2 separate regions of the Homo sapiens genome follow, and region 2 is linked to region 1. The links come from fine-mapping of genetic effects on plasma protein levels. Region 1 holds a variant in brackets. A gene starts in the other region. All regions are shown on their forward strands. Region 1 has its middle 5.3 kb from the start of RHBDD1. Region 2 holds the start of CD79B (CD79b molecule).

What was found. PIP is the posterior inclusion probability: the model's chance that the variant is causal. The UK Biobank Pharma Proteomics Project read protein levels with antibody pairs (Olink). The fine-mapping took linkage between variants from a reference panel, not from the people measured, so its PIPs are less certain.
Region 2: it holds the start of CD79B, and the variant in region 1 is fine-mapped to the plasma level of the CD79B protein (UK Biobank, PIP above 0.99).

The regions. Positions count from the first base shown.
Region 1 is chr2:226,829,297-226,832,205 of GRCh38, forward strand. It overlaps a transcript of RHBDD1 not described here. Among named protein-coding and RNA genes, the nearest start is that of RHBDD1, 5.3 kb to the right of the region's middle. The variant G/A (reference allele first, on the strand shown) is at 1,434.
Region 2 is chr17:63,929,576-63,932,484 of GRCh38, forward strand. CD79B (CD79b molecule) reads right to left here and starts at 2,756. Exons shown (of 6, transcript NM_000626.4): 1 at 2,620-2,756; 2 at 1,760-1,810; 3 at 499-810; 4 at 195-313. The coding sequence starts at 2,686. RefSeq lists a silencer at 1,606-1,675 and enhancers at 2,373-2,762, 2,736-2,909.

The DNA of each region.
Region 1 (2,909 bases):
GTAGTATAATTCCTCCAACTTTATTCTTCTTTTTCAAAACTGTTTTGGCCATTCTAGTTCTTTTATTCTAGATTATAGGGACCAGCTTGTGAAGTGTGTACCCCAAAAAAGCCTGCTGAAATTTTGAGGGATTGTGTATTGAATGTATAGGTTAATTTAAGAAGGAGTGTCATTTGAACAATATTGAGGCTTCCATTCTATGAATGTGAAATGTCAATTTATCTCAGCCCCATTAAGTATTTTTCAGTGTACAAGCCTTACACTTCTTTTATTAATTTGATTCTAATATTCCTAAGTATTTTATTCTTTCGATGCTACCTGGAATGAAATTGTTTTCTCAATTTTATTTTCAGACTGCTAATTTGTGGTGTAGAGAAATATGTTTTTCAAAAAATTTTGTATCCTGAGACTGTGCTAAACTTATTAATTTTAGTAGTTTTATCTGTGTGCGTGTGTATGTATGTGTGTATTTTCCTTAAGATTTTCTACATATCAGGTGATCTGTGAATAGAGTTTCACTTTTTCCTATTCAATTTGATGCCTTTTATTTCGTTTCCTTTATTACACTAGCTGAAACCTCCAGTACAACATAAGTGATGACAGCAGACGTTCTTTTCTTGTTTCTAATCTCAGGGGAAAAGCTTTTGGTGGTTTATGTTAACTATGATATTGACTGTAGGTTTTTTTTTTTATAGATGCCCTTTATTATTACTAGATTGAGGGAGTTCCCTTCCATTCCTACTTCCCGGAGAGCTTTTATCATAAATATGTGTTGGATTTAGAACAGTGCTTTTCTACATCTATGGAGATGATGGTCTGAATGTTTGTGTTGCTCCAAAATTCTTATGTTCAAATTCTAATCTCCAAGGTGATGTTATTAGGATGTGGAGCCTTTGGGAAGGAATTAGGTCATGAGGACAAAACTCTCATGAATGAGATCGTGCCCTTATAAGAGACCCCAGAGAGCTAGTTCTCCTTTCCACCATGTAAGGACACAGCAAGAGGGTGCTGTCTATGAGGAAGCAGGCACTCATCAATCTGCCCATGATGCTTTGTCAACTTTCCAGCCTCCAGAACTGAGACATAAATTTCTGTTGCTTACAAGCCACTCGATTTATGGAACTTTTGTTATAGCAGCTCAAACAGACTAAGACAGATGACCATGTGGTTTTTGTCCTCTAGCTTATTAATATGGTGTTTTATATTAATTTTTTGCTAAGAGGGTCTTGCTATGTGGCCTAGTCTGGAGTGCAGTGGCTATTCAAAGATGCAATCATAGCCCACTAGACCCTCAGACTCTTGGGCTCACGTGATCCTCCTGCTTCAGCGTCCTGAGTAGCTGGACCTACAGGTGCATACCACAGTGCCAGATATAAACTTTTTTTTATTTTTCAAGAGATGGGGTCTCCCTTTGTGACTTAGGCTGGACTGCA[G/A]TGGCACAATCACAGCTCGCTATTCCTTGAACTACTGAGCTCAAGTGATCCCCCCGCCTCAGCCTCCTGAGTAGCTGGGACTACAGGTGTGTGCCACTGTGCCTGCCTTATTTAATTTGTTGTATAGATAGGATCTCACCATCTTGCCCAAGCTGGTCTCAAATTTCTGGGCTCAAGCACTTTCTTACCTTGGCCTCCCAAAGTGCTGGGATTACGGGTGTGAGCCACTGCACCTGGCCTTTTTTGATGGAAAGCCAAACTTGCATTCATGGTATATGATCTATCCTTCATACATATTGCCATATTTGGTTTGCTAATACTTCATTGGGAATTTTTGTACATTCACAAGGGATGCTGATCTTGTAATGTCTTTGTCTGAATTTGTTATCAGGGTAATAACATCCTCACAGAGTAAGTGGAGAACTGTTCTATTTTCAGAAAGTTTGTGTATGATGGTATAATTTCTTCCTTAAATATTTGATGGATTGACATCAGTGAATCCATCTAGACCTGGGCTTCTCTTTGTGGGAAGATTTTCTTTGTGGAAAGTATTAAATTTCCGTACTTGTTACATGTCTGTTATGGGTTGAACTGTGTCATCCAAAAAGATGTGTTGAAGCCCTAACCCCCAGTACCTTAGAATACGTTATTTCAAAAGAGGGTCATTGCAGATGTAATTCATTAAGATGAGGTCACACTGGAGTAGGCTGGGCACTTCAGCCTCTAGGAGACAGGCACGTGAGGGAACAGCACATGTGGAGATGCAGGCAGAGACTGAAGTGCTGCAGTTGTAAAACCAAGGAGCACCAAGAAAGGCCAAGGATTGCTGAAAACACCAGCAGTGGGAAAGAGACAAGAATTCTCTCTTCCAGGTTTCAGAGGGAGCAGAGCCCTGCCAACACTTTGATCGAGCTTCATGTCTCTAGAACATGAGATAATAAATTTCTGTTGTCTTAAGCCACCTAGTTTATAATACTTTTTTTTTTTTTTACAACCACCATAGAAAATAAAGTCTTTTTGGATTTTCTATTGAGCCAGTTTTGGCAATTTGTGTCTGTCTAGGAATTTGTCCAATTCATCTGCATTGTCTAATTTATTGGCACAACGTTATTTACAGTCTCTTACAATCCTTTTAATTTGGGTTGGTAGTGATGTACCTGTTTTGATTCCTAATTTTGGTCTTTTTAATTTTTTGGCCAGTTTAATGTTGGCTCATTAATTTTACTGGTTTTTTTTTTTTTCTAAAAAACAAACTTTTGATTTTCATTTTCTCTATTTTTGTTACTTATTTTATTGATTTGCAATATGATCATTATTTCCTCCCTTTGCTAAAGGTTTACGTTCCTCCTCTTTTTCTAGTTTTCAAGGTGGAAGTGTAGATTTGAGACTCTTTTTCTTGGTGTTTAAAGGACTAAATACCCTTTTGATCACTGTTTTAGCTGCAGTGCATGACTTCAATATGTTTTCACTTTCATT
Region 2 (2,909 bases), not on the chromosome of region 1:
GGAGTGAGGTGCATTCTGCAAGAACAGCTGAATGAAGGAAGGAAGGAAGGAATGATTGAATTGGTGAGCCAGTGGGGACAGGCTGGACCAAGAAGGCCACAACGAGAGCTGGGGAGATGGAGACCCTGCATATGCCTGGCCTATGCGGTGGCCTCCTCTGCGGTCCCCCAAGGCTTCCCCCGTCCCCTGATCACCTTGTCCAGCAGCAGGAAGATAGGCACGATGATGAAGAGGATGATCAGCAGCGTCTGGATCATGATGATACCATCCTTCAGCGTGTTCCTCTGCTTCAGCTGTGCCAAGGTGCTGAATCCTGCGGGGACAGGGGTGGGGTTGTGAGCCTGGGCCACAGTCCACCTTTTAGGCCTACAAGGGCAGCTCCCTCAGGTCCCAGTGGCTCTCCTGAGTGCTCTAGGGCCATGACCATCACCACAAGAGGCAGGCCGGGCTAGGGTGGGGCGGACAGCTACAGGAGCGTCCCAGCCACCTGGCACACACCCATGACTCGCAGCTCTGTGCCGCAGCCCTGGTAGACCTCCGAGGTGTTGTTGCACTTCTGCTGACAGAAGTAGATGCCATTGTCCTCAAACCGGATGCCTTGGATGGTGAGGGTGGCGAGAGATTCGTTCTGGGACTCTTCCATGCGGCCCTTTTCCAGCTTCAGCTGCTGGGGATTCTCGTCCATCTCCTGCTTCCAGAGCCAGCTCACATTGCCGGAGGCGCTGTTCATGTAGCAGTGCATTTTCACCGTGAAGCCCCGTTTCCTGGCTATGAAACGTGGGCTCTGCCAGATCCGCGAACAAGCACTACCTGTGGGTGCCAAGGCCAGGCTCAGCATTCCGCTTGGCATCTTCCTGAGTGCCAGCCCCAGCAGCAGGCCCCTGCCCTGGCTGGCACAGACTCCCTGGGCTTAGTCCTTGCTTCTCAGGGTGTGGGACAGGCAGGAGGCTGAGGTTGGAGTTGGGAAGCAGAGCCACGTGAGAGGCTGAGCCACATGAGAAGCCACGGCCAAGCTCTCAGACTCCACCTCTTCCCGACTGCCCCACCTCCCCTTCGATTTTCCTTTGGAAGAGCCCTGGGACCTTGCCATTCCTTCCTATGCCCATTACAACAGCCTGACCCAGGCCACACCCCCAGGACCTGGAGGCCCACAGGCCTGGCCCCTCCTTTCACTGGGCTGCCCTGCACAGGCTTGAAATCCTCAGTCTCCCCCGTTCCTCCAGGGATAAAGGCCAAATTCCTAGTCTGTCAACTGAGACCTTCCTCAGTCGACCCCCTCCCTGCATGACTTCCCTCTATCATCCCCCTCTTCCCTCCTGCAGGGACTGGGTCCACTTCTTGTTCCAGAACCCTCTTTCCAGCTTCGACTGCCTTGTTCTTAGTGAGCACTGCCCGGGAATCCCTGAGCCCCTCACATAGTGACCCTGCACTGGAGGGCTCACCCGAGACTCAGCCAGATTCCCAGCTAGACAGGCCCGGGCCTGAGTCCTAGAGGAACCCCCAGGCTCCCTTGCTATGACCCAGAGTTTAGCCCAGCCCTTCAGTGGCCAAGGCTGGAGGGCATGTGTCTGATGAGGATGACAGTGGGCTGGGGGTGGGGCTCAGAGGAGATCCTAAGGAGGCCTGGGGATGGGAATCCTGGATGGGGAGATCAGGCAAGGGTGGGAAGGCGGACCGCCCCCAGGACAGGGACCATAGTCGGACACAGGACATAGTCGCACACAACTTGCCCTCAGAAGCGGCAGGCGAGGCTACTGACCTTTGGGATTCCGGTACCGGTCCTCCGATCTGGCTGCTGGTACTGGCTCAGCTGCTGGGTGGGAGGAAGTGGGCGGGGCCAGTCAGGGCCTCCTCTGGCCTGGGCTGCCCCACCCCTGCATGCCCTCTATGTTCCCGGAGCTACTTCCTCCTTCCATGACAGCAGCTTCAAGACCCCTCGGTCCTCCCTGCCCCCAGTACTTGGGAGACAGATATGGGGTGGGGGTACCGGAAGCCCTGCCCCCAGCCCCCTTTCTGCCTTTGACCCTCATGGTGGCTTTGAGCAGGCATCTGAATGAGACAGGAGGGACAGGGAAATCTCAGTATTTTGAGAGGCCAAGACAGGAGGATCGCTTGGGTCCAGGAGTTTGAGACCAGCCTGGGCAACATAGGGACACCCTGTCTCTCTTTTTTTTTTTTTTTTTAAAGAGAGACAGGAAGAAAGTCACAGCCCGGAGGATCTTTCACCTCCCAGAGGAGGGGACCACATTTGGATCTTGCATCTTCCAGGGTCCGGTTGGGACAGCCTCTCCCCTCCCGACCCCCAGGCACCGCCCTCAGCCTCTCTTCCTCCTGAGCCTAGTTCTTCCACGGTCCTGGTTGCTAACTCTGGTTTGCTCCTCATGCCCAGCTCAGCCTGATGCTCTCCAGGCAGGAGAGGAACTGGGGCCACAGGCTCCTGAGCCCATCACCACGTGCAGCTGACACCCACAGACCCAGGCCCCAGGGCCATGAGAGGGAGACAGGCGGTAAAGAGTGAGAGACAGAGGAGGAGGGTGGAGCAAGCAGGAGGCAGAGCCGCAGGGCCCAGACAGCTGGAGATGAGAGCAAACCCCACAGGCCTCGTCGTGGGTTCTGTACCTGAGAGCAGCAGCAGCAACGCCACCATCCAGTGGCTGGGCACAGGAGACAACGCCAGCCTGGCCATGGTCACCGCTCTGTCCCCGACCCCAAACCCGTGACAACGTCCGAGGCTCCTTGGAGGAAAACGTGTAACTGCACCGGCTGCAGCCTGTCCCCTCCCCGCCTCTTCCTCACCAGGCCCCTTCCTGCCATGCAAATTGGGACCCAGGGGAGGCACCAGCTCTCCGGGGACCCTGGGGGAGGGCAGGCTTTTGTCAGCTGGGCCGCTAAGGTTTGGCGGTCGCCCA